3 separate regions of the Homo sapiens genome follow, and regions 1 and 3 are each reported to be linked to region 2. The links are microRNA targets in miRTarBase. Many come from high-throughput screens and were not tested one by one. Region 2 holds a microRNA gene; each other region holds the end of a gene's coding sequence.

Region 1 (4,302 bases), not on the chromosome of region 2:
TCTGTGGTATTCTGTTATGGCACCAGCTTTAGCGAACTAATACACGTAATAAAATGTAAAGAAAACAAAACCAATGTAAATAACATTTTCTAAGTTCCATCTAAATAAAGTTTTCCAGCCTTCCAAGATGAATGCTTACACCACTTTTTTAGAAACCCGCTGTCTTGAGTTTAGATCTTTTGATTTCTTCAACTGTACTGTAAAAGGTTTTCCTTAATGTCTTCACAGGATGTGTTTAGCTTTCATACATTCTGAGTCTATAAGACCATTCCCAGATGAAACACTGAGACGGTGACAATAAATGTTGTATGTGGTTACAATGGGTAAAGCATAGTTTCTGTCCTTAAGGAACCATGCCGTGATCTAGCATGGTGTGTGTGTGTCTCATCTCCACACAGCAAGTTACCAGCAAAGTGACTTTTATGAGGACTCAGAGCAGGAGCACTAAGCCAGACTGGAGGAGGGTTTAGAATAGGTTCCTTGGTGAGGGGACAGCCAAACTGATTTTTAATGGGTGCAGAGGAATACATCTAGTGAAAGGAGGTAGACGGACAGGTATTCCTTGCAGAGAAAAAGACTTAAAAAAAAAAAAAAAGAGAGAGAGGTGAAAAGGTAACAATGTTCTTTCTAGTGCTTTTAAAACCACTCCCACCTGGATTTTAAGTTCAATCATTTTTCTCTGTCCACAGAGGTCACAGATAGCATAACTACTATCCTTCATATTTTTTACCCTTTAAATATTTAAGCACTTACAGTTACAAATTCTGCCCTTTCAGCTTTTCTTTCTTCAGGTTAAGCAACTTCAGTTTCTCCAGGCTATTCTCCAAACTTTTAAACCAATTTGAGGCACTGCCACCCACTACTTAACCAGTGTACACACATACATGCACACATGCACACACATGCGCTCACATATAGCTGTGCACAGGCCAAGAGGGCCTGCAATTCACCAAATGTCTCTTAAATTTAAGAGGCTATATCAGTGATGTTCTCTCACAAAATACAAATTAAGGTGACATCTATCACATAGCTATGTGAACCGTAAAATCATCAGTGTATTTCCTTTACTACATAGAAAGCAAAAGACCGACACCAATGGTCATTCTGAGGGAAGACTCTATACTCTGAAAGAAAGTGTTTTCTTCTCCATTGCTGACAACTGAGTTAATAATTTTGCCATGTGTAGGTGTTGGGAAACATCACAGAACTGAAATAGATCAACCCCACTCATATGGGATGCATTTCTACCAGGAAACACTACGGTTCTTTTAATCCTACATCAAGTCATAAATACAACAGACCTTGTTTTCCACACAGATTCCTATTTCTTTCACACCCAAGCATATGCTAAGAGCTCTCAAGCAACACTCTTCCTCCATCTCTGGGAGACGTCTTAAAACATTTTTAGCTTACCAAACACAAAACGGAGGAGGATCTGTTTCTTTACTCAAGGATAATCATCTTCAACTGCTTATTTATACTGCAGATAGAAACCTATAGATTGAAATGAGCATATTTTCATTCTAAAGTTGGCATCTGTGCTGCCATAGTTGAGATGCAACAATCGTGTTTGAAAATCAATCGTCCAGGAAACCCCACGTTGCTTCGCAATGTTCAAGCCAAGTGCTCATTGGAATTAGAAGGTGAGTAGCACTAAAGAAATGAGAAAGAACACTAGTCTGCTGAAATAATGGGACCATATGTAGGCAGAAAATACCAAAAATGAGAGTAAAATGTTGTGGCTAAAAAGTAATGTCTTATGACATGTAAGTAAAGGATCAATCTCCTTTGAAGAACCCACTAAGAAATGATTGATTAAAAGTCTAGAATTGTGCTGTGTAATAGAGTAGCAACTAACCGTACTTGGCTATTTAAATTAATTAAATAAAATTAGAAATTCTGTTCTTGATTTGCACTAGCCATGTTTTAAGAGCTCAGTAGTCACATGTGGCTAGTTGTTGCCACATTGGGCAGCATGAATAGAAGAAATCCTCATCATTACAGAAAGTTCTACTGGCAGCGCTGGTCTAGAGAGATCTGCTTGACTACCGGGTTAGCATTGTGTTAAGCATCAGACCCCGAAGAGATCATGGAAAGAACAGCATGCTCGCCAAGTGTAATGATTAATCCATGGCAGGAAAAAAAAATGTGGTGGAAAGAAAAAAAAATTCCACTCCTGGAATGGGCTAATATGATGTAGTATTGACATTTGTGTTATAAGAAATAGACAAGTAAGGAAAGTTTTGAGCTGAAATGGAAAGGAGCTAATAAATCATACGATTTGAATATCTCACCACTCCCTTATGAACATTCATAAAGCATTGATTTGGAAGAAAATATCCATGAAAAGTCTCTCTTCATCTGTTAGTGGCTGATTGTATTTTATTGGTCATTCCTCAAATACTATTCAACCATGACTTACTTCCTACCCCCAATGTTTTTCTGTTATAACATTTTTGATCATGCATTTAAATAAATATACCCCCCATCAAAAAGTGCAGACTCTTCCCATTTTACAAAAAAAGGCAAGAACTTTATTTTAAACAAATCCTTAGTTGTGTGTTACACCATGTCCATATCTAAATCAAAAATGATAATGATAATTCAAAGGGAACAAAGGGCTTCATAAAAGCACATTACCCAGATGTTTCTCTTGGCCAATATTTTAACTAAATACACAGTGGATATGAAAGGTACAGTATGGCACTTAAATAAATAAGAGCAAAAAGAAGAAAACATATTGACAGTCCAATGCAATAGGTTTTTGAACCTTTGGTATATGTCTCAAATAAGTCACCGTAAACACACGTTAGCCAATAGTGTTTAGTTGCAGGTCTTTTAAGCCAGTAATTTTGTATGTGTGTCTGTATATGTGTGTGTGTTTCAAAGAGTAACTGAAAAAATAATAAATCAGGATTGACATGGGATGATTAAGGTCTCTGGTGTAAGCACACAGGTAAATTCAAATCATGGCAAAATGACCGTGCAGCTGTGTTGCACAACAAAACTATGTAAGAAAATGAGTGAGATACACCAGTTACAAATGCTGTGGCTCAGCTAGACACTCTTGATATTAGCCAAAAAAAATCTTTTTAATGTTAACCAAAGTCCACAAGCTGGAAGGCAGAAATATCCTGAAGCTCGTAACCGTGTGCCTAACTGTGCAACAACAATCTCACAAAAGTGTTGTAGTTGCATATTGCAATTCCCTCCCTCCCACCCATCCCCCATCCCTAGTAAACAGCACCAGTGCAGTTTGAGTTAGAAAACTGGAAATATTGAGACATTCCTAAGGTTTTCATCACGACTAAGGGCCAGTCAGATGGGGCTCTAATGAAAACCTCTGCCATGGCCGTTCTCCAATAAGCACCCCATGTAATTCCCTCTAAGTTTGCAAATAAAACATATTAGGTCTAATGTAAGGCCAGATTCTGGAAAAAAAAAAAAAAAAAAAAAAAAAGCTGGCATGCTATTTTGGATTGAGGGAAAGGGGCATGCTGGTGGGGGAGATACATGAAGAGTGCCTCAAGGATGTTTGTCCCATGGCTCAGGATAAAGGGATGGGTTGAGATAGGTCACAAATTTTATATCAATGAAGTACTCAACTCACACCATTCACCAGAATAAAGAGCTCAGCAGGGCTAAGTCCTACTTGGTAGCTGTGCAAGTTCAGTGTTATCAGGATCAGGCTAGGCCATAAACAGAAAGGGACCAAAGAAGTCTAATTGATCCATTTCATCACTCTACCCAATCGTCTCTGTAGAACCAATTAGGTGATATGTGAAAATGGGTCCACTTTTCCTCCTTTCCCATTGGTGCAAAATCTTCTTTTATCCAGTCTTATCCTACATCTTAATGGTGAGGGTCACATAAATGAGGGTGGATACAGCCACGTCTGAGCAGTCATCTGCCTTGGGGCTCCTTGCCATCCCCCAGACCTTCATGAAACCTGCCCTCTCACACATAGGCAGAGTCACTGGACTGAGTCCTGCCAAAATTGGGAACACTGACCCTTGGCAGGTCCTTGTTACGAATCTCATAGATTGACTTTCTCTTGGCCTGAGCCCCTCGCACAGCCAGCTTGATCTTGCGCCATCCCAGGTGGTTGAGTTCAGCCAGGTTGAGCACAACACAGATGCCACTTACAGCAAACATGAACACTAGAAAGACAGTCTTCTCAGTTGGCCGGGACACATAACATTCCACCTCCTTGATGCAGGGGTAGCGGTTACACTCATACAACCCTGGGACACTAAAGCCATAGAGAAAATATTGGCCAACCAGGAACCCAATTTCCAGGGC
Region 2 (4,000 bases):
TGAAACCCCGCCTCTACTAAAAAAATACAAAAATTAGCCAGGCATGGTGGCGGACGCCTGTAATCTCAGCTACTCAGGAGGCTGAGGCAGGAGAATCGCCTGAACCTGGGAGGCGGAGGTTGCAGTGAGCCAAGATTATGCCACTGCACTCCAGCCTGGGCGACAAGAGCGAGACTACGTCTCAAAAAAAAAAAAAAAAAAAAAAAAGTATCATATATGATCCTGATTCCTATACCCAATGGCCCGTGAACAGTATTATTAATAATTTTGGTCCTTGGGCCGGGCGCGGTGGCTCATGCCTGTAATCCCAGCAATTTGGGAGGCCGAGTCGGGCGGATCACCCGAGGTCGGGAGTTCGAGACCAGCCTGACCAACATGGAGAAACCCCGTCTCTACTAAAAATACAAACTTAGCCGGGCGTGGTGGCACATGCCTGTAATCCCAGCTACTCGGGAGGCTGAGGCAGGAGAATCGCTTGAACCCGGGAGGCGGAGGTTGAGGTAACCGAGTTCGCGCCTTTGCACTCTAGCCTGGGCAACAAGAGCGAAACTCCGTCTCAAAAAAAAAATTTTTTTTTTAATAATAATTTTGGTCCTATGTAAGGTATTATTAATACACAGATTTTCATTTTTCGCCTAATTATCCTGAACCAGTTAAAGTGAACACTTGGAAGGGGGTAGGGGGAATATCGATAGCCATGGCAGTGGTTTTCAAACTTTATCAGAATTACCCGCTGGTTAAAATTCAGATAACTCGCTTCACTCCAAAGTTTCTGATTCTGCAGGTTTGGGGTAGGGCCCGAGAATTTGTCATTTTAACAGTATCTCCGGTGTTGCTGATGCCGCTGGTCCCAGAACCACACACTGCGAACAACTGGCCTAGAACGTTGTCATTCCTTTCTCCTACAGATTTTGAGGCAGCCGGTGGGCTCCGAAACAAAACAGAGGTCACTGGATCCGATTCCCAGTACCATAGAAGTGACTCAAACCAGCGATTCAACCGACAAGCAGGATCCGGGCCACCCAAAGCCGCGCGAGAGTTTACGTGACGACATCGGCGTCAGCGTCACGGAGGCGTCGGCCACGTTCAGCGGACACGGGAGCAAGATGGCGATTCCGGGCAGGCAGTGAGTGATCCGGGAGTTAGGGTCAGGCTGGGGGATGAGAAACTACGGCGACTGTATCTTTGGCCGAGGAGTTTTAAATGCGCTGGAAGTGAAGGGACTGTGTCGTCAAGGGTAGAGACGGGAAAAAACGAGAAGTCCTGAGGAACATAGATTCCCCTCCCCCGTACATTTTCCCGGATGGAAGCCCGAAGTTTGAGGGAGAAACTTGTGAGGAAATAAAGGAAGTTAGGCTGAGGGGCAGAGAGCGAGACTTTTCTATTTTCCAAAAGCTCGGTCTGAGGCCCCTCAGTCTTGCTTCCTAACCCGCGCTTGAGTTTCTCCCCGCTTGGATGCTCTCAGGGGCAGTGTGAAGAGAGACAGTTCCTGGCTTCCTTAGAGGGCCTTGTTCTCCTTGGCAGAAGCTCAAGTCCTGATTCCCGCCCTTCCTTCTCGTTTTAGGAATATTGTTCTGAGAAGCCACAGAAAAAGGGTAGGCATATAGGAAATTGGGGTATACGTTGCCGCAAAAGAGACAAATACTGTACGTACTTGAAAGTTTTACCTTTGATGTGTAATCCTTACTTTTGATGCGGCCTCCCGTGATCTCCGCATCTTAAAGGCCAAAACGTGAGAAACTAAAGGAGTTGGATCTGATGGGATGGTTCTCTCAGATGCTCCGAGGCAAAGCACATGATCTTAATAAAGTGTAATGCGAACTTGCCCCATGGCTACTTGGGTTTCTCAGTTATCTTTTAAAAATTTTCGTGAGTTACACTATCCAGTCAGTTCTTAGAAACTGTGTAAGTACACAGTAGGAAAAAAAATCTAGCCATTTTCTTGACTGTTTAGACCACAAGGATAGTTGAAAGCATTTTAAAATCTTTAGTGGACATGAACTAAACTTTCCACTACACATGTTTTTTTTTTTTTTTTTTAAATGTTACTGTCACTTCGCCATCTTAAAACATTTCTGAACTTTTCATTTACTTCTCTTCTTTGATAAAAATGGTATTCGAGTTTGGCCCGTGTCCACAAATGATCACTTAGAGTAGTAATTATAGAATCTTACGGCATGTTAGAATTTTGAGATCACTGAGAAGCAAAAACAGTCTGTTACGTGTTCATAAAGCTTATGACATGTTTTGATTTGGTAGCTTCATGTGGAAGAGGTAGTAGATGTATTTGTTAACATTTAAACATAAAGGTTTAATTTCTATTTCAAAAAAAATATATGCAGGTATGGGCTTATTTTGCCAAAGAAAACACAGCAGTTGCACCCTGTTTTGCAAAAACCATCAGTGTTTGGGAATGATTCTGATGATGATGATGAGGTAAGGAAACCTATGTTTTACTCGTGCATGGTTGGAAATGTAAATTTTTTAAAAATTGAACTTGTGACTCTGATACCTTTGCCTTTGTTATTTGTCAGTACAGTGGAGTATAATTTACAGAATTGTCAAAAAGGAAGGTGTAAAGAAAGCAGCTCCACCGATTTTTTAAAGATTTTTTTCCCTCTAAAAGCTGCAAACTTTACCTTTAAACAAATACACGGTCTTTTCAGACTACTGAAATTGTCATAACAAAATTGTTGGTGTAAAGATCCCTAGGTATGAGTTATTAAGATGTCACCAATTTTCTACAAATTTTTATTAGCAAAGCAGTTTTTAATTTGTTAACCATGAGCTAAGATCACTATATAACAGTTCTTAACAACGCTACTTTTTTTTTAAATTCAGTGTCTGCCAAATGTAATTGCTCAGTTATAATCGTGGTAGTGAATAGTTACTCTTGATAGTACTACAGTAACATCTAATATCAACATTTTCTATTTTAGCAGCCAAAACTACTTCTGTGAAACCCACAGTTATATATCAGAAACAATCCCAAATGTGTGCTTTTCTTTTCTCTTTTTTTTTTTTTTTTTGAAACAGTGTCTTGCTCAGTTGCCCAGGCTGGAGTGCAATGCCGCGATCTCGGCTCACTGCAACCTCCGCCTCCTGGGTTCAAGCGATTCTCTTGCCTAATCTTCCTGAGTAGCTGGGATTACAGGCACCTGCCATCATGACCAGCTAATTTTTGTATTTTTGTAGAGACAGGGTCTCACCATGTTGGCCGGGCTAGTCTTGAACTCCTGACCTCAGGTGATCTGCCTGCCTCAGCTTCCCAAAGTGCTGGGATTACAGGCGTAAGCCACCGCACCCAGTAAATATGTGCTTTTCCAATACTCCCATCATGTTTTAATATTTTTTTTTCTTTTTTTTTTTGAGACAGAGTTTCGCTCTTGTTACCTAGGCTAGAGTGGGATGGTGCAGTCTTGGCTCACTGCAACCCCTGCCTCCCAGGTTCAAGTGATTCTCCTGCTTCAATCTCCTGAGTAGCTGGGGTTACAGGTGCCTGCCACCATGCCTGGCTAATTTTTATTTTTTTATTTTTTTGTATTTTTAGTATTTTTAATATTTTTTGTATTTAGTAGATTTTCCTGCCTCAGCCTCCTGAGTAGCTGGGATTACAGGTGCCCCACCACCACGCCCAGCTAATTTTTATATTTTTAGGAGAGACGGGGTTTCACCATGTTGGCCAGGCTGGTCTTGAACCTAACCTCAGGTGATCCACTTGCCTTGGCCTCCCAAAGTGTTGGGATTACAGGCATGAGTCACCATGCCCAGCCTCTTTTTTTTGAGATGGAGTCTCCCTCTTTCGCCCAGGCTGGAGTGCAGTGGTGCGATCTCAGCTCATTGCAACCTCCGCCTCCTGGGTTCAAGCGTTTCTCCTGCCTCAGCCTGCTGAGTAGCAGGGATTACAGGAACACACCACCACGCCTGGCTAATTCTTGTGTTTTTAGTAGAGGTGGGATTTCACCATGTTGATCAGGCTGGTCTCGAACTCCTGACCTCA
Region 3 (4,357 bases), not on the chromosome of region 2:
GGTTCACTTTGTTTTTTATTTTTAATACATGTGGCAATTGAATACAACAAATGAAAATAAGTCATGAAAAGGTAAAAACCAAGTAAGTAATTTTATCCTAGATTACCAGAATTTAATCTCACTATGCTGTTTGTATTTTTTCATTAGTATAACAAGTTGTAAATGTACTGTGCTGCCTCTTTAAGTGTTCAAAATTAATTTCAACAGCATGTGTTTAACATAAAGTTAACTATGTTTGCATCAAATAAATGTTTATTAATGAAAGCTATTTATCATACAAGAAACAGCAAAGATAAGTCATCATACAGAGGTGTACACTAGAGGTGACATATGTAAAAGTGCATGCAGAGATTTCTGTTTAAAAAGGAAGTGATAAACAATAATGCTAAAATTACTGGGGTTTGATCCCTATACTCTTAAATGGGTGATAGCTTTTCTTTGAATTTACAGTTGGAAAATGCCATTAACAGGACTAATACACATTAGCAAGCAGGTGAAATGAATGTTTTGGACTTTATTTTACAACTGTGCTTGACAAATGTGTGAAATTTTTTTCAATAATAATTTTTTTCAAATATGGGGTGGGCATATTACTGCCAGGTTGCTCTGGTTTTGTACATGGTTTATCTAATTTTGTTTAAACCACATAATTTTAGGCCTTCAGTTGTGTTAGACACCATAAAGAACACAAGTTTCGTTAACATTCAGTAAATGACATTTAAGTCTCTCTCTCTCTCTTTTTTTTTGGCTTAATAAATTTTTTAATGTATGATTATCATAACCTAATAGTGTCTTTGTCTTCACTGCAGTGGATTTCCGATCAAACTTTTCCCCTTCTTTTAATACTTTAGGGAATTTTCAAACGTCGGGATGTTTGGCTGTAATGCCCCAAGATTTGTTCTCCCTGAAAAAAATCATAGTGACAATTTATTAACTACAGAGCAACTTGGCTTTTAGGGGTCTGCAATTTCTATTTAGATTTACAAATATCCATTTGTGCTCAATAGACCTAACATGAAATCTTAATCATATTTAAGGTTTCGTTCCATGCAATTACTTTATATGCTAATTAGCCTTTTTATTCTAAAAATTGGACTGAGTCAAATCAGTGGGGCATTACTTTTGTTATAAGCAAATATATTCAAAGGTATTTCTAGGTTGAATTACACTGCCTGTGCAACAATGTGTAACATTTCATATGAATCAGAAGTTTGGAAGTCTAAAAACTATTTGTATGTTTAAATATTTCTAACAATGTTGTATTACCATTTGAAAAGCTTTTACATATAGATGCTGGAACACACTAGTACGGTTAAAACTTAAATAAAACTGATGGGAAAGAAAACTCCTTAGATTCAAAATGTTTTATTCACACAAATTTAATAGGATATATCACAATTGTTTGGTCCATAAATATTTAGGGGAAATAGTTTCTATACAATGCATTTATCAATAAACAAAGAAACATGGACAATTTTGCTAGACCACTTACTGTACTATAAACACGAAGCTCAATATATAAGATTATTGAATTTATCAACTATATTTGAAAGAGTGCACAACTGCTTTCTATGACATGTTTGTCCCCTCTAACAGGATACACCATAAAAAGAGTTTCAGAAATAAGAGGTAAAACAGTACAAAACTAGTGAGGTGTTAAAAGGGCTTAAAACAGTTAATTTAACAAACAACACATATATCCTGATTTTTCACAAACTTACTTCCAAGTTATATCATAAGGCACATAGGAGAACTGAGTTATAATTAGTCTACTTAATAAAGTAGATCTATATAGTACCATATATTGTTCTGTCAAAGAACAAAATTTATAAGTGTCAATATTTTACCTGTAAAAGTGTATTAATAAGATCTCAGCCTTACCAAGGTTGTTTGGTCTGGTTAGTGGTAAATGCCCAAAATGTAATAGAAGTATGAAAAGTCAAGATTTAAGCTCCATATAAGATGATAACCATACTTGCTAAATATATAATGGCAATCACACCTTTCTTCTGTTACAGTGTTAACTTATCTTCCATCATCTTTTTTTAAAAAATAAGCTACTTTCTGTGCTAATTTTCTAAAGACCCTGAGCAAAAGTTACAATAATGCACTTTAATGTGGGCAGTGAACTGTCAATATGTAACCACACATTTATACAGCCAGAAGGACACCTTTAAAATCTATTAAATAGCCACTTCGACCACCAAAGGAGATTTAAGGGGTCCAAAAAGTGGAAAATATGTGCAAAGTTATTCTTAACAATCCACTAAAGCAAGACATATATCTTGACTTCTTTTTTATTTTTTTAGGAAATCCACAATCTAATTGGTATTTAACTACAACAGAAGCGTAATAGATGAACATTCACCACTGCCCAGACCATTAAGATTTTAGCTTAAATTAAAAGAAAAAAATGCTACTGTAAACTAGGAAATATATTCAGATCAGCATCCACAAGGCTTCTGAGTTTATCTACTTTAAGACTAATAACTTCAAATCTCTAATATCAGAAAAATTATTTTCAATACATAAGTCAACCTATGTCAAAATAAAATAAAACAAAACAAAACCAATTGTTGGTATAAGTCTACCAGGCTGGGTATTTTAAACATTATTCATATAGAATGCCAGATACAATATCATGGTACAGCTGAAGCCAATTAATAGAGCTATTAATTAAATTATATTGATTTTTTTACTTCTTAAAACATTATATTTTGCTTATTTCCATTTTCCCTGGGAAAAAAAGTAACTAGAAAGAATGGTTTCCGAGCTATTGTTTTTAGCTTTAGGAGGTTAAAAGTATGGAATGTCAAAATCAATGCGGAATTTTCATGGATACATAGGGAGCTTAAGTATTTTTCAAATGTTGAAAAACAAATAACCAAGTAAAAAGTTTTTAGAGTTGTACACCCCTAAGAGAAGGAAAAGTCACATTCCTGTAATAGATTTCTCACCTAATTAATCATTACTATTTAAAATGTCTGTAGTTAATGCTTTTATTTCATCATATTCCTCACTTGAATTAACAGTTCAGGTAAGAAATAGAAATACTAAAAACAAGTTTTCAGTTTTAAGATTTAAAAAATGTAACGTTTTCAAAACTCCATAATCACACATACAATTGCAAGATTTAAAAAGTAACTAATTAATTATCTGGTTCTTTATTAACCTAATCATTTAAGTGGGAATATGATTATTTGCCCATAATAATACCACTCTTTTTTCTTTTTTCTTCGAGATTCTGGAAATAAGTAACATACAATTTTAAGAGGCACTTATTAGAATTATTCAAAAACTCTCCTTACCAACTGAAAGACCTAATTAATTTTTTTAAATCCAAATACACTTTGTAGACAAAATATATTCACTTAAAGGAGACAATACTGTAAACTCATTTGCCAAGTGGCTGCAGATGCTACACACCAAGCTGTTATTTTTATTCCCCAAATATCTTGTGGGTTAGAAGAAAAAAAAAGTCTTGTAAATAATAAAATAATAATAATTAGAATAATAATAAAAAGAAGAGGAAGAATTTAAAAACTAAAAAAAAAAAACCAATGTTAGAAAAGGTTTGTTAAGGTAGTTTGTGAGGGGCTTCCGGATTCGTGGCTGTCCATGTTAGAGGTCACGGATGTCACTACAGTGATAGTGGGATTGGTCAGGTCTGTTAAAGTGGTCGCAGTGCCGGGTGGAGTGAGAGCTCCGCTGTCTGCTGAGGGCGGGGCCGGAAGCGACGTGCCGTCAGCTTTATCAACACCCCCATTCTCCTGCCGCAAAAGGTTCCTTCTGAATTTGGCTCGTGCGTTTTGGAACCAAACCTGCAAACCAATCCCAATTGATTTCTTTACCGATGTTCATTTTTATATTTCTTTTCTTTCTCTCTCACTTTTTCTTTTTTTCTTTTTCTTTCTTTCTTTTTTTTTTTTGATATAGGTTTCTCCTTTTAAATATCATTGTTTGTCTTTCTTAGGAGGAAAGGGGCTTTTTTTTCTTTTCTTTTAAAACAGAGTTATTCAAGTAACACTACAGATTTATTATCTCTCAACTGCACTTATTCCACCCTGTAGCATTAACAAGTGCCACTTGGAACAACTGATGCTTAAGTGGATATACCATGGAAATGAACACATGGTGATAAAAAGGGGGAAATACACGGTGATTCCTCAACTGTTATCTTTTGAGAAGAGGTAGAAGCAGGGCCATTGAAAGTATGGCAAAGTAAGAATCACTCATATGAAATGGACATCACTGAAACAGACTTCAAGCCATTCGTGAGCCCAACACACGGTATATATTCTTCACATAGAAAAAACTCCCAGGGCCACAGACCTCGAACAGCCTGAAACTGTTTAGC

The links. The annotated mature microRNA hsa-miR-3184-3p reads AAAGUCUCGCUCUCUGCCCCUCA and lies in region 2 at 1,358-1,380, opposite strand. An mRNA with a match to its seed (bases 2 to 7 or 8) in the 3' UTR can be bound and repressed. Matches are read on the target gene's strand: a 7mer-m8 pairs with bases 2 to 8, a 7mer-A1 pairs with bases 2 to 7 and ends in A, and an 8mer does both.
Region 1: miRTarBase lists GJD2 as a target of hsa-miR-3184-3p. The part of its 3' UTR that is shown has no 7-base or 8-base seed match.
Region 3: the mRNA of LHX9 is a reported target of hsa-miR-3184-3p. Seed matches in the 3' UTR shown: 7mer-A1 at 2,583-2,589 and 8mer at 720-727.

Annotation. Positions count from the first base shown.
Region 1 is chr15:34,748,521-34,752,822 of GRCh38, forward strand. GJD2 (gap junction protein delta 2) reads right to left here. Exons shown (of 2, transcript NM_020660.3): 2 at 2,512-4,302. The coding sequence ends at 3,958. Among named protein-coding and RNA genes, the nearest start is that of GJD2, 4.3 kb to the right of the region's middle.
Region 2 is chr17:30,115,738-30,119,737 of GRCh38, forward strand. MIR3184 (microRNA 3184) reads right to left here and starts at 1,423; the gene lies at 1,349-1,423. It overlaps NSRP1 (nuclear speckle splicing regulatory protein 1), which reads left to right and starts at 1,079. Exons shown (of 7, transcript NM_032141.4): 1 at 1,079-1,126; 2 at 2,343-2,436. The coding sequence starts at 1,107. MIR423 (microRNA 423) reads left to right here and starts at 1,342; the gene lies at 1,342-1,435. RefSeq lists enhancers at 590-1,789, 822-941, 962-1,061, 1,092-1,191 and silencers at 904-1,505, 1,442-1,511.
Region 3 is chr1:197,928,466-197,932,822 of GRCh38, reverse strand. LHX9 (LIM homeobox 9) reads right to left here. Exons shown (of 5, transcript NM_020204.3): 5 at 1-3,821. The coding sequence ends at 3,564. Among named protein-coding and RNA genes, the nearest start is that of LHX9, 13 kb to the right of the region's middle.